Linked DNA regions of Homo sapiens: region 2 is linked to region 1. The links come from fine-mapping of genetic effects on gene expression. A gene starts in region 1. The other region holds a variant in brackets. All regions are shown on one strand. Distances are from middle to middle. Region 1 holds the start of F12 (coagulation factor XII). Region 2 holds the start of DOK3 (docking protein 3).

Region 1 (4,383 bases):
GATCCCCAGCCTCCCAGAGTGTTGGGATTACAGGCGTGAGCCACTGTGCCTAGCCATAACTGACCAAGTCTTAAGGATACTTCTAGTTTTAGGATGTAGGCTCTCAAAGTCATGAGAAATCAATCCATCAGTACTAGTTCTCAAATGTCGTGTAACAAATCACCCTAACTTGTGGCTTAAAGCAACAACATTTAATGATGATTTATCACAGTTTCTGATGGTCAGTTTTGCCTTGAGGTCTTTCATAAGATTGCAAGCCAAATGTCAGCGAGGGCTGCAGTATCCACTTCCAAGGCAGCTTATTCATGTGGCTGTCCAATTGGCACTGGCTGTCAGCAGGGTGCTTTCCTTTCTCCCTACATGGGCTTCTCTGCAGGGCTGCATGTGTGTCCTCACAACACAGTGGCTGGCTTCCTCCAGAGTGAGCAACCTAAGAGACCGAGGCAGAAACTGCAATGTCTTTTATGACCTGGGCTTGGAAGTCCAACACCCTCACTTCTGCCATATTTTTTTTTTTTTTGAGACAGTCCCTGTCGCCCAGGCTGGAGTGCAATGGCACAATCTCTGCTCACTACAACCTCCACTTCCTGGGTTCAAGCGATTCTCCTGCCTCAGCCTCACGGGTAGCTGGGATTACAGGCACACGCCACTACGCCCGGCTAATTTTTGTATTTTTCATAGAGATGGGGTTTGGCCAACACGTTGGCCAGGCCGGTCTTGAACTCCTGACCTAGAGTGATCTGCCTGCCTTGGCATCCCAAAGTGCTGGGATTACAGGTGTGAGCCACCACACCCAGCCACTTCTGTCATATTCTGATGGACACACAGAACAGCCCTAACTCAATGTGGGAAGACACCATACAAGGGCATGAATCCTAGGTGGTGAGGATCAATGGGGGCTGTCTTTGAGGCTGTCTACCACAGCATCTTTCCATCCTTCCTGCCCTGTTTGCTTTGCTTTTCCTATGTGTAGGCTTCATTCTCAAACAGGCCCTCCCTAGAGAGTGACAAAGGTGATCATCAATGTGTTCAGACCCACATGCTCTGTGCTTAGTAACCCCAGTGCAACTTTTTTGCTTTCCCAAAAGTTCTGGCAAAAGTCCCAAGCTAGCACTTTAATTGGCCTAAATTGTGTATATGCTTATCTCTGAACCAATCACTGTGGATTAGAGATGTCATGCTCTGATTGACCAGACCTAGGCCACATCTCTAGCCCTAGCTCTGAGGGTAGAGTTGGCAGCACTAGAGCCCATGGAAGAAGTAAGAGAGGAGTCGTTGCTAAAGGAAAAATCAAAGTGTCATTACCGAACCAGGACAGATGCTGGGCAGCACATGTGCACCCCGTCTTCTTCTCATGTTCCAGCTGCACATCTTAGTGCCCCTTGGTTTAGCACTTTTCTCATTAAATCATTTGCTTTCTTGCCTCACTTCCTGTGGTTGGTAGAATGCTAAGATGGCCCCAAGATCTCTACCCCTGGTGTTTGCACACCTCCCAGTTATTCTGTCAAACATGAATGTAGATGCTTCTGTGAAAGAATTTTGCACATGTAATTTAAGTCCCAAATTGTTTGACCTTAAAATAAGGAGAATGGCAGGGCCAGGCATGGTGGCTCATACCTGTAATCCCAGCACTTTGGGAGGCCAAGGCGGGCAGATCACGAGGTCAGGAGATCGAGACCATCCTGGCTAACACAGTGAAACCCCATCTCTACTAAAAATACAAAAAATTAGCTGGGCGTGGTGGCGGGTGCCTGTATTCCCAGCTACCCAGGAGGCTGAGGCAGGAGAATGGCGTGAACCCGGGAGGCGTAGCTTGCAGTGAGCCAAGATCGTGCCACTGCACTCCAGCCTGGGTGACAGAGCCAGACTCTGTCTCAAAAAAAAAAAAAAAAAGGAGAATGGCTTTGGTGGGCCTGACCTAGTCAGGTGAGTTCTTAAAAGGCGACACATGGCCCGGTGCAGTGGCTCAGGCCTGTAATCCCAGCACTTTGGGAGGCCGAGGCGGGTGGATCACGAGGTCAGGAGATCGAGACCATCCTGGCTAACATGGTGAAACCCCGTCTCTACTAAAAAGACAAAAAATTAGCTGGGCGTGGTGGTGGGCTCCTGTAGTCCCAGCTACTCGGGAGGCTGAGGCAGGAGAATGGCGTGAACCCGGGAGGCGGAGCTTGCAGTGAGCGGAGATTGCGCCACTGCACTCCAGCCTGGGCGACAGAGCGAGACTCCGTCTCAAAAAAAAAAAAAAAAAAAAGAAAATTAAAAGTGGGTATTGTTGTAAGATGCTGAGTTTATGGTAGTTTGTTACATGACAATAGAAAATGAACACACTTCACAGTGGACTCCAAGATCCCCATGATCTTTGATCTCCTTAACCTCCTGATCTCCACAGGACCCAGAGCATAAGAATGTCCCTTCTTCTGCTTCCAGTCCCACTATCTAGAAAAGAGAGGAGGAGCCCAGCTCTTCATTTCACCCCCACCCACAAACTCCCAACTTTCCGGCCCTCAAGGGGTGACCAAGGAAGTTGCTCCACTTGGCTTTCCACAAACAGCCTGTGCCCCACCAGGCTCAGGAGGGCAGCTTGACCAATCTCTATTTCCAAGACCTTTGGCCAGTCCTATTGATCTGGACTCCTGGATAGGCAGCTGGACCAACGGACGGATGCCATGAGGGCTCTGCTGCTCCTGGGGTTCCTGCTGGTGAGCTTGGAGTCAACACTTTCGGTGAGTGCTGTGGGAACCAGGATTGTCCCAGGATTGTTCTGGGGGGTCGCTATCACAGCCATGAGCCATGGCCTCTGCTCATGACCTGTGGGTCCAGGTGACTAGGAGGCCTATGTGGAAAGGTGAGGCCAGCCCGGAAGGCCCAGGCAGAGGAGACAGACAACCAGACTGGGTGGATACAAGGGCACAGCCTGCATTTCTGGGGGAGATGGGCCTTAAGAAGACAACGGGGGGAGGTAGAAAGGGTTTGGGTCTTGGGAAGAAATCTCTGCATTTCTGGGCTGTGAGAGGAAGCTGCAGACTAGCAACAGATCGGTGGCAGGCTATGACTTATAGTCAGTTCCCTGCCTTCTTCTCTCCCTTGTAGATTCCACCTTGGGAAGCCCCCAAGGAGCATAAGTACAAAGCTGAAGAGCACACAGTCGGTAAGTGGCCTGGCTCCTCCTCCCGGGAACCCTTGGGTGGGGATGTGTATGGTGCAGTGTGTGCAGTCTCAGGGCAGTCTAGTCTAGTGCCTACCTGGTGCTAGGTCTTATGCCCATGGGCACTAGAGTGATCGTGAGCTGTGTGATCCTTGAGGGCAGGGTATGGGCTGTGTCTAAGTGCCCACGAGCCTGGCTCGGAGCAGGTGCTTGAGATATGTGCTGCTGGCGCCATCACACCTGGGCTCCTGCCAGCCTTCCTCAGTTTCCCCAGCTTCTCCCCTTCTTTTCCTTTCCCCAGTACGTCTCATGGGCATCATTCATGCCACACAGAGGCCAGGGCCTTCAATGGGCAAGGAAGGATCAAGAGCTTGTCTCTGGCATCTGAATGCCTCTGAAGCCCAGCTTTATCACTTATGAGCTGGGTGACTCTGGGCGAGGGATTTGAGTTCTCCAAGCTTCAATTTCCCCTTCTGTGAAACCAGGTTGATAACAGTAAACCTCTTAGGGTTGTTGAGAAGGGAAACCCATGTGAGGTATTCAGCCCATCACCTGGTGCATGGAAATGCTTTACAAATATTAGCTTTTATTATGAAACTACCTTTTAGATGAAGGGTACCTGCCATTTCCCCCTTCCTCAAGCTCTGCCATAGCTCCCCATTGCTTTCATTCTTCCAGACACTAAATTACCTACATGCCAGGCATGGTGGCTCATGCCTGTAATCCCAGCACTTTGGGAGGCCAAGGTCGGTGGATCATGAGGTCAGGAGTTCGAGACCAGCCTGGCCAACATGGTGAAATGCTGTCTCTACTAAAAGTACAAAAATTAGCCAGGCATGGTGGCATGCGCCAGTAGTCCCAGCTACTCGGGAGGCTGAGGCAGAAGAATTGCTTGAACCTGGGAGGTGAAGGTTGCAGTGAACGAAGATCACACCATTGCACTCCAGCTTGGGCAACACAGCAAGACTCCGTCTCAAAAAAAAAAAAAAAATTTACCTAGAGTGTGGCACATAGCAGGGCCTGTGAACCAGATGGACCTTACCCTGGTGGGCCTGACTTGGTGGGGTTGAGTCTCTAAGCATGGCGTTGAGGCCCAGCACATTCCAACCCTGGACTCCCTCAGCCTCCTCTCTTCACCCCACACCCAAAAGTTTCTCCTCTCTCTTGCCTTACCCAAACTTGGTGCCCTATCCTTGCCTAATCCCCTGCCTAAGGTCCCCCTCCTCTCTGTCCGTCCA
Region 2 (4,383 bases), 99 kb before region 1:
CTCTGTGCCCAGCTCTGCTGAGCTGTGAGGACCTAGATGGGCCAGGGAGATGGCTGCCTGGGAAGCCGTCAGGCGAGGGGAGAGAAAGACGCACACGCAGAAACGTGGACGGCAGTCACAAGACCGCTAGCAGATGAGGCAGGATCTCAGCATCTGGTGAGAGGTAGGCAGGGACGGCACAGGCGGCCACACTTCCTCTGAGCCAGGCACTTTGCATGTATGGCCACATGCTCATTCCAGTGAGACAGCGGTTGCTCAAGCCATATTTGTCACTTGATATGTGGCATTGGGCAAGTTACTTAATTTTTCTGAGCACCGATTTCCTCACTGTTGAAATGGCGATGAGAACGCAAAGGATGTGGCGTCTGAGGTGGACGGAGCTTAGGGCTGCTTGGGCCACAGTGGGCACAGAGCTGGGTGCCAGGAGGCCTTCAGGACATATTTCCTGGCCAAGTGCATTCCCAAATGGCATTCCTTATCCTCTTCCATGTTCTCTCCCAGAGGTGGTGCTGAATGACCTGAGGCTGTTCCAGAATAAAGGTATACACACAGCCCCGCTATTGGCATCTTGCTAGGCAAGCCAACAAAAGGCGCCCCCAGCAGGAAGCAAAGCTTTAAATGAACATGTGACCTCTCCGGGGCCCCCTGGGACCTGCCACCCACACTCACGTGGTTGGGGCCATTCAGGGCTGTGGGTCCCATGTGGACTGGATGCCCAGCGTGAGTGTATACCGTGAGGGCCTTTGAGCTCTCGGACAGCGTGGAGTGGTCAAGGGAGGCCTCCAGGAGGAAGAGGTGGCCAACCGCCCCAGGCAGCACAGTGGTGAGGGGGCCCTGGAGGGGCTGGCCTGGGGGAGATGCAGGCCAGAACACACAGGTCCCTGAGTGTTGGGCTGAGGAGCCTGGGCTGCACCCCAGGAAGGGGAGAGACAGGTTGGTCTTGGGTTGTGGAGAGTGCTGCATGGAGGCCCAGTGGGGCAGTGGCCCCTGGGGGGATGCCAAAGGCTGGTGATGTTCAGTGGCTCGTGAGGTGGAGAGGAGCAGGTGAACACGAGAGAGATTTCAGGGAGAAAGAAAAGCAGCAAGATGGGGTGAGGCGCTCAAACCAGGACGCCGAGTGGGAAAGCCAGGAGTTGGCTAGAGAAGGGTCCTGGGTGGAGGCAGGGCCAGGGAGTGTCAGGCCCAGGGTGCGCAGCTGCCCGGGGCGGGACGGGGGAGGGGCGGGAACTCATGACTCGGGGAGCCAGACTGCGATCAGACGCGCGTGCCCAGCTGAACCAGGTGCGTGAGAAGGCTGCCTTCAGGTGGCCGGGGGCTCCCTCCAGGTAGGTGTGGGCACCTTGGGCAGCCAGAACCCCAGGGAGGAAATACATGCTGCCCCCAGCCCCTGAGCTGAAGACAGGCTCCCCTCCCCCCGGCCTGCAGCTGTCTCTAGACGGAGGGACGGGAAGTGGCCAGAAGGGGAAGTGTGAGGAGTTCCCGTCCAGCCTGTCATCAGTCTCCCCAGGTCTTGAAGCGGCGGCCCTGCTCCTGGCCGTGACCATGGACCCTCTGGAGACCCCTATCAAGGATGGCATCCTCTACCAGCAGCATGTCAAGTTTGGCAAGGTGGGGACCCCTGGCTGCCAGGCAGCTGCCAAGGACCAACAGTGGGTGGAGAATGCAGCCTCTGCCCCTGCCTCGGACAGCCCAGGCAGACCTGGGAGACTTGGGAAGGGAGTCAGGGTGGAGGATCCCACCCAGGTATGGGGAGTGGAATGGAGTGCGGGTGTCAGCCTGAGACGGCAGGGGCTGAGCAGGCTCTGCCAGACCCTGCCTCCGGGAGAGATGGGAAATACAGGAGTGGGAGAGGGTCGAAGGCTCAAACCTCCCAGCAGGGAAGAGCTTCACAGCCTCTGACCCATGAAATAGTGCCACCGAGGGCCCTAAATAGGGTGAGGGGCTGAGCTGGAGGAGGCCTCAAGGGTGGAGCCCCTCCCTGCAGCGGCACTGTCCTGGGAGCAAGGAGGCAGGGGGTCACCTCTCCTCGGCAGCAGCCCCACACCCCCGCAGCTCAGCTGCAGCTGCTGCCCAGGCAGATAAACCGTCAGTTTCCTTTGCTCGAAGCTATTTGCATGTTTCCTTCCTTAACAGCTTGAGGCAGAGGCCTCCCTCCCACCCCAGCTCTTGGCCTGTGGCCCAAGTGCCCCTTTTTGGGGGTGAGAGGGAACCAATATAATGGCAGTGTCTGGTGGTCTGCCCGGCCACTGGATGCTTTACAAACATGACCCAGTAGCAGTCCCAGCTCGAGTTCTCATGGCCTTTTGAGAGACGACATTGATGCTTGTGGAGGTCACAGTTAGGAAAGAGCGGGCTGGGATTTGAACCCAGGGCTGACCAATCCCAAGCATAGCCAAGGCCTCCTTACCTGGCTCCCTGAGAAACTGGGGAGCAGAGGCCCGCTCCTGGCTGGGAGCGTTTGCCGAGCAGCTTGTGCTGAGCCAAGTGGCACGGACAATCTGCCACCCAAGGGTCTTCACCCTCCCGCTCCCCTCCC[G/A]CAGAAGTGCTGGCGGAAGGTGTGGGCTCTGCTGTATGCAGGAGGCCCATCAGGCGTGGCACGGCTGGAGAGCTGGGAGGTCCGGGATGGTGGCCTGGGAGCAGCGGGTGACAGGTCGGCAGGGCCTGGCCGGCGAGGGGAGCGACGGGTCATCCGCCTGGCTGACTGTGTGTCCGTGCTGCCGGCTGACGGCGAGAGCTGCCCCCGGGACACCGGTGCCTTCCTGCTCACCACCACCGAGCGAAGCCATCTACTGGCTGCTCAGCACCGCCAGGCCTGGATGGGCCCCATCTGCCAGCTGGCCTTCCCGGTGAGTGCGGCGAGCAGGGGGGCGATTGGGCTGGGGCACCTGCCCCCGACTTGTCCACCTCCACGCTCACATCCCATCACCCAGCAAGCTCCACCGAGCACCTACAAGCCTGGGAAAAGTAAATCTATAATGACTCTCAGAGGGCCGTGCGTGCCATGGAGAAAATGGACCGCCAGGGGAGCAGGAGGAAGTGAGGGAGCGACGGGCAGGGTGGCCAGGGAAGGCCTCTCAGAGGAGGGCCCTGAATGACAGGAACCCACTGGGCAAAGGTCTGAGGACAGGGGCAGCCTGGGGAGTTGTGAACAGAGGGAGTCCCGTGGGCAGAGGCCCCGAGGCCGGACAGTGTGGGGTGTTTAAGGGCAGAAAGAAGGCGACGTGGCTGGAAGGAAAGGAGTGCAGGAGGAAGCCAACTCACAGAGCTTAGGAGAGCGGCTGAAATGCCCTAGGCCATGTGTGTGGTTTTGTTCTGAGTGAGAGGCGAAGGCTTTGGAGGGTTTAAGCCGGACATGTTTGTAAAGCCCCAAAAGGTCTGTGATGGGTCAAAAGGAAGTGAGCCTGGGGGTTCTTCAAAGAGGTAAACAGAGTTACCATGTGGCCCACAGGTCCACTCCTAGGTGTGTGCCCAAGAGAACTTGAACAGGTGTTCAAACAAAACATGTACATGTGAGGCAGGAGGATCGCATGAGCCCCAGAGGTCGAGGCTGCAGTGAGCTGTAATCGTGCCACTTCACTCCAGCCCGGGAGACAGAGCAAGACCCTATCTTAAAAAAAAACCCACATGGACATGAACGTCCATAGCAGCACTACTCACAGCCACCAGAAGGTGGAAACAGCCTACATGGCCATCAGCTGACAAATGGATAAGCAAAACGTGGTCCGTCCGCAAGATGGAATACTACTCAGCCATAAAAACAAACAAACGCCTGGCACAGTAGCTCTTGCCTGTAATCTTAGCACTTTGGGAGGCTGAGGTAGGAGGATTGCTTGAGCCTAGGAATTCAAGATCAGCCTGGGCAACATAGTGAGACCCTGTCTCAAAAAAAAAAAAGAAAAGAAGAAAGAAAGAAATGTACAGACAAGGTAACTCCATTGGGATAGAAATCAGATGAGTGTTGGCAGGAGCTGGAGGAAGGGAGAAGTGGGGAGTGGCTGCTCATGGGTACAGGGCTTCCATGTGGGATGATGGAAAAGTTCTGGAACTAGACAGTGGCAACAGTGCACAGCCTTGTGAGTATACTAAAAAGCACTGGTGGCCGGGTGCGGTGGCTCAGGCCTATAATCCCAGCACTTTGGGAGGCCGAGGCGGGCGGATCACCTGAGGTCAGAAGTTCGAGACCAGCCTCAACATGGAGAAACCCCGTCTCTACTAAAAATACAGAAGTAGCTGGGCATGGTGGTGCATGCCTGTAATGCCAGCTACTCGGGAGGCTGAGGCAGGCAGAATTGCTTGAACCTGGGAGGCAGAGGTTGCGGTGAGCCGAGATCATGCCATTGCACTCCAGCCTGGGCAACGAGAGCAAAACTCCGTCTCAAAAAA

Evidence for each region. PIP is the estimated chance that this variant, and not a neighbour inherited with it, causes the effect.
Region 2: its variant is fine-mapped to the expression of F12 in liver (GTEx, PIP 0.93).

What each region holds. Positions count from the first base shown.
Region 1 is chr5:177,407,811-177,412,193 of GRCh38, reverse strand. It overlaps F12 (coagulation factor XII), which reads left to right and starts at 2,630. Exons shown (of 14, transcript NM_000505.4): 1 at 2,630-2,723; 2 at 3,091-3,148. The coding sequence starts at 2,667.
Region 2 is chr5:177,506,700-177,511,082 of GRCh38, reverse strand. It overlaps DOK3 (docking protein 3), which reads left to right and starts at 1,257. Exons shown (of 6, transcript NM_001308236.3): 1 at 1,257-1,325; 2 at 1,426-1,608; 3 at 2,541-2,846. The coding sequence starts at 1,543. RefSeq lists enhancers at 852-1,001, 2,822-2,871, 2,892-3,001 and a silencer at 1,132-1,271. The variant G/A (reference allele first, on the strand shown) is at 2,537.